Linked DNA regions of Homo sapiens. The protein of the gene in region 1 purifies or fractionates together with the protein of each later gene. This does not show direct contact. Each region holds a gene or a part of one and is shown on either strand. Other genes may lie near its edges.

Region 1 (3,659 bases):
AAAGACTGGGAATGAATCTGAGCTGTAAACCTGCCATTGGAAGATGTAATTAGTCAGTCAGTGGCCATAAAGAGTATTCGATTTTTTTAAAAGCTATTTTTCCTTACCGGTATTGTGTGGCTGCAAGTGATAAATGATGAGAATTCTCTCTTGCAATTATTATTTTAGTTTGTAACTGCTTAATTTCCTGCAAGATGAAGTTCTGTGTTTACATGTTATGATTTTCATTACTAAGCCATCTTTTAAATTTTACTTTACAGATCAACAGTACAAATTCTGAAGTTTGTAAACTTGCTGATGGTGGTGGTAAGCCATGGCAGATGATAAAGTTGCTATCTTAACGGATGATGAAGAGGAACAGAAGAGAAAGTATGTGCTTGCAGATCCCTTTAATGGTATTTCCAGGGAACCAGAACCACCTTCGAATGAAACACCTTCCTCCACAGAAACATCTGCTATTCCTGAGGAGGAAATAGACTGGATAGAGAAACATTGTGTTAAGATAAACAACGATCTTCTAATTTCCAAGGTCTTTTATTTTTTCTTTTACTCTGCCTATGGCTCTCTCTATCCCCTTTTGCCTGTGTATTACAAACAGCTGGGAATGTCTCCAAGCCAGAGTGGACTACTAGTAGGTATTCGTTACTTCATTGAATTCTGCAGTGCCCCCTTTTGGGGTGTAGTTGCAGACCGCTTTAAAAAAGGCAAAATTGTCCTCCTCTTTTCTCTTTTGTGTTGGGTTTTATTCAACCTGGGCATTGGATTTGTCAAACCTGCTACCTTGAGATGTGTACCAAAGATTCGCCCAACAACTCACCCCACCAATGCAAGTCACCAGTTAACTATCCTGCCAACAAATTCTTCCTTTACCTCTTTCCTCACCATATCACCAAAAATGCGTGAGAAAAGAAACCTTTTGGAAACAAGGCTCAATGTCTCAGACACCGTTACTTTGCCAACAGCTCCAAACATGAACAGTGAACCCACTCTGCAGCCCCAGACAGGTGAAATTACTAACCGTATGATGGACTTGACTTTGAACTCAAGCACAGCAACCCCTGTCTCCCCAGGAAGCGTAACCAAGGAGACAACCACTGTTATTGTTACCACCACCAAATCTTTACCTTCTGACCAAGTCATGCTTGTTTATGATCAACAAGAAGTTGAAGCTATATTCTTGGTGATCTTGGTAGTTGTCATAATAGGAGAATTTTTCAGTGCCTCTTCTGTCACAATCGTAGACACGGTCACACTCCAGTATCTGGGAAAACACAGAGATCGCTATGGGTTGCAGCGCATGTGGGGCTCCCTGGGCTGGGGCCTGGCGATGCTGTCTGTGGGCATCGGGATCGACTACACCCACATCGAAGTGCTCATCGATGGAAAGGGGTGTAAGCCCCCCGAGTACAGGAATTACCAGATCGTCTTCATCGTCTTCGGCGTTCTCATGACCATGGCCTTGATCGTTGCCACTCAGTTCCGGTTCCGCTACAACCATTTCAAAAACGATGATTCTAAAGGGAAAGAGGTGGAGATCCCGCAGGTGGAAAGGAACAACTCTACAGAGTCCTCTGAGGAGACACCAACCACCACAAGCCACTCGCAGGCCTTCAACTTTTGGGACTTAATCAAGCTGCTCTGCAGCGTGCAGTATGGCTCAGTGCTGTTTGTGGCTTGGTTCATGGGTTTTGGATATGGCTTCGTGTTCACCTTTCTCTACTGGCATTTGGAAGACCTCAATGGAACTACAACCCTCTTTGGGGTCTGTTCAGTCCTGAGTCATGTGTCTGAGCTGACAGCATATTTTTTTAGTCACAAGCTTATTGAATTGATCGGCCACATCAGGTAAGAACATGCTTACGATTGCTGCCCCTCAGCAATTGAACTTTATCTTTTTATGGTTTATAGCTCCTTCTACTACAATTTTAAGGTATTATAATTTGTGTTGAGGATAGGGTTGGAGTGGAAATGGGGATTTCTGTTTCTTTTCCTCCTTAAAATAGAAACAAAGGAAAGGAAGTCATGAACCTGGTTGGATTATCTCAAATAAACAAAGAATGGCTTCCTCTGCTCTCCCACCCCACAGAAAAGACCTATAGGCTACCTAGCTGTGTGCTAAGAGACTCTCACAGTACATGTTTTCAGGTATAGGAACACCAGCTTAGTGAACATATTATTCCATGGAGGGTCCACCTGTCCTAGGCATTTATGAACCAGAGCTTAAGTAGATAAAGTGGACTTTTTTAAGCCTTTATTCTCAGCCACTTGCTGACATAGATAGAGCCTGAATATATGGCATCTAAAGATGTCCATTATATCTAATAAGACTGTGATGTAACCCACCGTAATCCCTAATTCCATGATATTACATGGATGAGGTTCTTAAGTATTTTTTTTGGGTTATTACATGACTCCCTGCATTTCTGTCCACCATGAAGACATAGGATATTTGAAAATCTTTCTTCCACCTAAAATTTCCCATGTAATTCTTTTAGTTATAAAAAAAAAAATCTATAGGCTGGGCACAGTGGCTCACACCTGCTAATCCCAGCACTTTGAGAGGCCGAGGCAGGTGGATCACTTGAGGTCAGGAGTTCGAGACCAGCCTGGCCAACATGGTGAAACCCCATCTCTACTAAAAATACAAAAGTTAGCCGGGCATGGTGGCACGCACCCGTAGTCCCAGCTACTCGGGAGGCTGACGCACAAGAATCACTTGAACCCAGGAGGCAGAGGTTGCAGTGAGTCAAGATCACACCACTGCACACCAGCCTGGGCAACAGAGTGAGACTCCATCTAAAAAAAGAGAACACCCTGTAAGTGCCTAGTGTTTCTTGTTGTGTACTATTTCTTCTCACCATTAATGTGCACCTTGCTCTTTAGAGATCTTTCTGCTCTGTTGGCTCTAAATGTGGAGCCAACTCCACTTAAGCATTCTTGCCTTACAGAAAAGTACGACATGTCTGTTCCTAAAATGTGAAGTTGCTGTAACTAAAAGCAACCGTATGTGTTTGTGTGTATTTAAATCTGCTATTTCTATAAGAAATTAAAGAGGAGAAATAGACAATGACAAGATTTGACAATCCTTTATTTCCTTTCTATTAACTGAAGAAAATATTTTCTAATTTAAAGTTTCAACCTAGTATCAACCATTTCTTTAAGCAATTGTGAGTATTTTTTCTTGTTGGTTTGGTTTTGCTTCGGGAGGTGGTGTTCTGTTCCTTCCCTTTCTCAGATCTTCGATCCCTTTGTTGTCACCACCAAAGTCAGGGACTGTGTGGATATTTCCTGGACCCACAGAACCCCTGAGGCACATTTTGTAAGACCATTCTGAAAGAGAGCCCACATAATATTAAGGACTCGGAATGCCCTTTAATTTTGTCCACACCATGTTTAGATTATCTGAGCTGTTTAAATTGACCGAGATGAATCAGATGCCTCCCTTCAGCTTGGGCAGATGAGCAAATCTCACTGCAGTTAATAATGTCTTTAAAATCACTGTTATTCATTCCCAGAAAGGTACCCAGTTAGGTCTTACCAATGCGTGGAGTTCTTAGACATCATTATTTAATAAGTCAATAGCATGAGTTGAACACTGACTCAGTACAGAGTATGTGTTTAGGTTCTATTTTCTTTTTTTTCACGTTTTATTTGTTTAT
Region 2 (2,877 bases), on another chromosome or scaffold:
AGCCTCCTTAGAGGGGAGTGAGCTTTCTCTTCCAGTCCTAATATCTGAATATTTCAAAGCACATGAGGAGTCCACGAACATGTTAGGGATGTTGCTGCCAAAATAGATCTTACTGTTAGAAGCAATGGCCTGGTACTTTTTGAGCTCCAGATATTCCGGGGTCAACTTGTGCTGTGTGGGAGCAAACAAGAGCAAAGGCATCAGAATACTCTGGTGCAACAGTCTTCTCTCTCCCTATATACATTTCACCTATTGCTCTCCTGAGTATCATGAGTCAAGTCTGAATAACTGCCAATGACCCTCTCTCACTTTGGAGAGTGGCTATCACATTAACAGCTGCGTTCCTGACTTAAAATTCCTTCATTAAGCTCCTGACTTAATGCAAGAGAAGCTGTTCACTTTTTAATAAAAGGATGGGGGAGTTGGAAAACAATTTGTGATAACTAATGATAATAACTAATATTTCTAAAGTGACTTTCATTTCATCTAGTTGAATTCAACCTGGAATTGGTCTGGAGTTTCTGTTGATTCTCTTTTCTAAAAAAATTATTTTTATTTTTGTAGAGATGGGGTCTATGTTGCCAGGCTGGTCTCAAACTCCTGGCCTCAAGCAATCCTCCTACCTTGGCCTCCCAAAGTGTCGGAATCAAAGATGTGAGCCACTGCACCCAGCCTTTTTTTTTTCTGGAGATGAGATCTCACTCTGTTGCCCAGGCTGGAATACAGTGGTTCAATTATAGCTCGCTGCTGCAGCCTCAAACTTCTGGGCTCAAGAGATACTCTCATCTTAGCCTCCAGGGAGGCTACAGGAATGAGCCATCATGCCTGGTTCTCTGTTGATTCTCTTGAGAGAGATACACAGGTCAGTGGATGAGAGCAGAACTTCAAAGGAAGGGCTGGTGCTCATTATCTTATCATTAGCTGTGATTCTGCTTTTCTTGAACAAATTCTAGAACTAGAATAAAATCTCAAGTTGTCACCTGATCTGGCCTTCTGCCTTTCCCCAGAAGCTGGATGTTTAAGCTGCTTGTGACAGACAGATGTTTGTCGACCACCAGATCTATGTGACAGTGTTTTGTTTAAATCAGGATGCCAAGATGTATCTAACCAGAACCTATCTGGGTTTGATTAAAACTCGTCGACCACCAGATCTCCCTCTGTCACACTGTTTTGTTTTGTCTAAATCAGGATGCCAAGATGTATCTAACCAGAATCTATCTGGATTTGATTAAAACCCATTTCCACTGTTCCCTGTAACATATGCCTTTCAAAGCCCCTCAGACCCTGCTCTGTGATCCTCTCCTTATCTTGAGTCCTGGCCTGTCCCCCAGGCAAAAGTCCATCTTGTCCTTCACAGTCCTACAGCATTTATTTTCTACACTTTGACATCTTTCACTCTTTGGATCTCTATCTTCTCCAGGTGATTCATATCCTCTGTCGAAACACTCCAATCAAATCTGGTCATAGTGCACAACCACATTTCTTCCTCAAGCCTTTTTAATATAGGTTAGTATCTGAGTCACATTTTTCAAAATGGCATAAAACTACTGCCCCTTTCTGAATAAGGTAGACCTCAATGGCAAGGTCTTGAAACTTGTGCCTGACGAGCTTCTCCCATTAGATTTGGACTCCTAGTTTCCTCAACTGGAGTTTCCTGTCATGCCTTTCTTTTGGCCAAATTCCATTCTGTGTCTATAGAACTGTGTCTTTCAATGTTATGTTCATTTTAAAATTTATATTGGTTTTCAAAGTACTGACAACTCTCATTCTATCATCTTATCATTTCTTCTAAATACGGATTATGTTGTTCCTTTCTAAATTAAAAGCCCTGTCTATATCTTAAAACTTGACTCTAATCCTTCAAACTGCATCATCCACTTTAGTAATCTCTTTCTCAACCCTTTATCTGTTCCAATCTGCTCCACGATAACCTTATAAATCTTGGACATACCCTTCCCTTCTCAGAATACTATCGGAGTTCTAGCTGCCTCTTAAATAGCCCCTGCTCACTAGCCCTGTACCGTCTAGCCAGCTTACCCCAGTCCTTACACCAAATTATCACCTATATATCACCCAACCTGCCTTCTCAAGTTATCCCACATGAAATTCCTCATGACTGGAATAGTTTTTTAAATCCAATAAACAAGGAGTACTCAACAAGGGGCATATGGAAATACATGCATGTGTGTGTGGCAGTTAAAACAACTGGTGACCACTACTGACATTCAGTAGACAAGGGCCAGGGATACAAAATATCCTACAATGCATGAGATGGTCTTCAACAATGAAAAAGTATCTCAACCCCAAATGCCAGGAATGCCTTTGATGAGAAATACTGCTCTAATCAAGCTAAGTATCTACCAAAAAAACTACCTTATTTGGAAAGCAATTCTAAATAGACTTTACTCTTCTGTCACTCTTATTTCAGAAGACCTTCAACTTAATTAATTATTCAGCCTTATATAGCAGTACAAATGAATGGAATTACGGCATTTGGCCTGTGTCCCTACCCAATCAATGTGAAATATTTCTTGCTAACTGACTAATTCTGGAGGATGTCTTGGTCACTACACTTTCTTGACAATGGATAAAATCACTTCTATCATATCAGAGCTCCTGAAAAGAGAAAGCAAAACCCCGAAATGCATCATTAGGAAAGTGGCCAGGGAGCCAGTCACCTTGTTTGAGGTGGCATATTTGTGTGCAGCATAATATTCAGCATCTGCTTTCGCTTTCTCTCGGGCCAGGAATGCAGCATCTAGCAAATAAACAAAGGAAAGGTGTCAATCCATTCCCTCAGCTAGTTAAGAGTCCCTTTCCCCACTGCTTAATATTGTGACTGCTTATTTCACATTGAAAGTTTTAAAAACCTATTAG
Region 3 (3,659 bases), on another chromosome or scaffold:
GGGTTCATTCCTGTCATATCATTTGGCAGAAGAGGTAGCAGAGGCTTGAAAAGTTTAGCTGGCTGCCCTAAATCATACAGCTAATAAGTGACAAAGCTGCCATTTGAATCAAGTTGGTCCGATATCAAACCCCACACTCCCTATTTTGGATGCCTCCAGTGTGTGAAGTATATTCATGCCCAGTGAACACTGGATTTAAACTGCTTATCTCAATCACAGTTAAACAGAAAACATCTGTTATGACAACCAAGGATCACCCACAGCATCACTATACTAAAAAAAAAAAACTTCATGGGAAAAGCCATTCCCCACTGAGCAATGTTGGATAAGGCAAATTTGAAAAAAAAAGAAAAAGAAGTGATTATTGAATCCATATTACAAATCTGGCTCCTGAAAAAGGGAATTGTTTTAAGGGATTCTACAAAATATCATCTCTCATTGCCTCAATCTATTTCTGCTTGGCCTACGAAAAAGGAACTAAGTGACTCTTCTAACAGTGTATTTTATTAGATCCAGATATGAATTGAGTTTGGTTTGCAAATTATTTCATTGTCTTTAAAATAAAAGAGGATAACATTAAATGGCAAGACTTCTGTGCTTGCACAAAGGTCTATAATGCAGAAAACTTCCAAACAATCTTTTAGGAAGAGGAACAATTTATACTTCCATAATTTGTGAGGTGGATTAGCTGCCATTCGAAATAATTTGAAAAGAAGTCAAAATGTGTATTTTGCCATTTTTGTGAATAGTAAATCAGAAAATAAAAGTGAAGTGTTTAGCAACAAGTTTGGCACAAATAATCTCAACAAATAAAAGTTCATGCTATTGAGATTGCTAACGTTAATATTATTTAGGCTACAGGATAAATTGTGCAAGATATCTGCAAAAACAAACAAGCAAATAAAAGAAAAAACTGGTTGTCGGATGCATCTAATTTTTTTCCACTTTTTTTTTTTTTTTTTTTTTTTGAGACAGTCTTGCTGTGTCACCCAGGCTGCGGTGCAGTGGCGCAATCTCAGGTCACTGCAAGCTCCGCCTCCCGGGTTAACGCCATTCTCTTGCCTCAGCCTCCTGAGTAGCTGGGACTACAGGCGCCCGCCACCACGCCCGGCTAATTTTTTGTATTTTTTGTAGAGACGGGGTTTCACCATGTTAGCCAGGATGGTCTCGATCTCCTGACCTCGTGATCTGCCTGCCTCGGCCTCCCAAAGTGCTGGGATTACAGGTGTGAGCCACCGTGCCTGGCCTTCCACTTTTTAACCTAGTAGTGCATATGTCTGTAGTATTCAACAGTTGTTCAAAATATATTCTTCTAAAGTCAAGCCAACATTACTGGATTTCATTGGCATTTTATAATAATGGTTCATTTCTCAATGTAAACCACTTACAGTGAGTACTTGTCCAATAGAATATTCCCCTGAGAGGACCAAGGTGGTCCCATACCAGAAGGCCAGAGCATAAGATGCATAGATCAGCAGGAAAGCAGCACCTATAGAAATATTGGCTGTAATAGCTTTCTTTATCCCAATTCTTTTAGCTTCTTCTAAATTTTTGTTGTACCTGAGAAAAAGAACAAAAATGATCACATATACATTTTATGAAAACATGTCGATATAGCATGATAGTTACAGAGTGGCTAGGATGTGTTCAGTCCTGTGATATACATGCATTTTGTCCTGCTGCTCATACATTGACCCTATATAGTAGTACTGTTTTACTCCCTTTTTGCAGAAGAAGAAACTGACATTTATAGAGATTAACTTATTTGTGGGGGAGTCTTCTAAAATTTCCTTCTCTGGCTTTAGCAATAGCAAATAAGTGAAGCAATATTTAGCAAACTTCTAAAACTTACATTGTTTCATACACAAGACAAAGTAAAAGCCATGGAAAAAACCTGTGTCTTTCCTTCAAAATCTGCATGCCTCTTTAATTAATAAAATGGAGAGATAATGTTAGAAAGTACTAAAAAAAAAAAAAAGGGACAGTCATTTAAATCTCTGAACATTAAGGAAGTTTGGAGACAGTTTGCTCTCTGTCCTGCCTTCCTCTAGGACTGTCGGAATGACCAACTGAGAGGTTACATGTGTGAGAGCATTTTGAGAGTTCTGAATTGCCATGTAATACTTTTTACATTTAAATAAGCTGTACAATTTATCTTACTTCCGTAGACATTTATTTTAAAAATCACTGACCTACAAAAATTATTTGGCTTACAGGTTTATAAAAGCACATCATTATTCATCAGCATTCCCTCTCTTCCTTCTCCTTTCTACATATTGACTATGTGTCCTTCCCTCTATTAATGCTCCCAACACTTGTCATGCCATAGCTGCCAGCTGCTGAACTAACAGGATCTGACCTGGTGGCTTGGGCCATCCACGGCTTCTGACTAACTCAAGGGCTGAGAAAAATTAAATTATTAGCATATCTATAGCCCTGAACCCATTCATAGCACAAAGGCCTACCCTACATTAACCAAACCTGGTGAGGACCCATTAATACTTCTTAGAGCAAATATAGGAAATTGTACAAAAGGGGCAAAAATGAGCAAATGAAAAAAAATCGAAAAACAATGTTGGAGTCACTGACAGATTTTATTTCTGCAGTTCTAATGACTTACAGGTTATTCCCAACTGATAATTCAAATATTTTTTAAACCCTCAGAGGGTGGTCAATTTTTGACGGTAAAGTTAAAGGAGATGATGTCTATAACTCGACCTTCATTTGAAAGGAACAGAGAAGACTACTCTGTTTAAGAGGATAGCTATGGAGATAAGCTAATGGAGCCCAGAGTTAAAGAAAAATAAGGAATTTTGCAAATGTAGAACCAAGGTAAAAGGATTAGAGAAACAGGACAGATTGCCTTAAATCTGTCTGTATTTTCTTAATCGCAACTCCCTGCAGAACCTAGAGCATTGCCTTGGATAGAGGAGGAGCTAATAATTGTTGAAATTCATGAACTTACTTCCATATAAAAGTCATACTTTAAGGTCTTTGATCCATAAATTCACAACTATATAAATATTATATAGCATTATATTAATTTCCTTTGGAGAACTTGTTCCATTAGCATGTACAGCAGAGCTCAAGCACTGTCCAGATATGAACATGCATTGTTTCTTGCTTTCATGACTACTTTAACTAGGTACATTACAGAGTTACAAAAGCATGCCAAGTGAAATTTACATCACTACCGTGTTCACTAAAGATGAAATTTAAACAGAACTTCATAGTGACAACATAGCAACACATCATTAGTTTCTACCCCCCAAAATGTAAATCCTCAACTTGCCAGTTATCATCTGAACAGAAAAATTATTTTTGAGAAACGTTTCAATTATTTATATACACATATGCACACACACACAACACACAGACACATACATATCTCTCACTTTATGAGTTGATCTGAGGTAAAAGCTACCACTGGGCATAACTTACATAAGAATATATTTAAGGACATTTAATACATATGTACTATACTCTGTTATCTCCTTTATTTCAGTTCTCGCTTACCAAGACTAACGTAGAAACCAGTCTGATGTTGTCCTATGCAGCCAGAGGAAACATTTGCACAGAAGCACAAGGAAGAAAATCATTTAGACATCAGAAAGGAGAAATAAAGGAAAGAAGGGGGCAAAGGGAAATGAGATATAAAC

Evidence for each region.
Region 2: the proteins of MFSD6 (region 1) and ERLIN1 purify together in Homo sapiens (affinity purification with mass spectrometry; one large-scale study listed by BioGRID and IntAct). This does not show direct contact.
Region 3: the proteins of MFSD6 (region 1) and ABCB1 purify together in Homo sapiens (affinity purification with mass spectrometry; one large-scale study listed by BioGRID and IntAct). This does not show direct contact.

The regions. Positions count from the first base shown.
Region 1 is NC_000002.12:190,435,717-190,439,375, forward strand, and holds part of MFSD6 (major facilitator superfamily domain-containing protein 6), read left to right. Parts: intron 1-260; 5' UTR 261-313; coding exon 314-1,845; intron 1,846-3,659.
Region 2 is NC_000010.11:100,152,182-100,155,058, forward strand, and holds part of ERLIN1 (erlin-1), read right to left. Parts: intron 2,759-2,877; coding exon 2,679-2,758; intron 172-2,678; coding exon 1-171. UniProt on the Homo sapiens protein: Component of the ERLIN1/ERLIN2 complex which mediates the endoplasmic reticulum-associated degradation (ERAD) of inositol 1,4,5-trisphosphate receptors (IP3Rs).
Region 3 is NC_000007.14:87,552,373-87,556,031, forward strand, and holds part of ABCB1 (ATP-dependent translocase ABCB1), read right to left. Parts: intron 1,561-3,659; coding exon 1,389-1,560; intron 1-1,388. UniProt on the Homo sapiens protein: Translocates drugs and phospholipids across the membrane. Catalyzes the flop of phospholipids from the cytoplasmic to the exoplasmic leaflet of the apical membrane.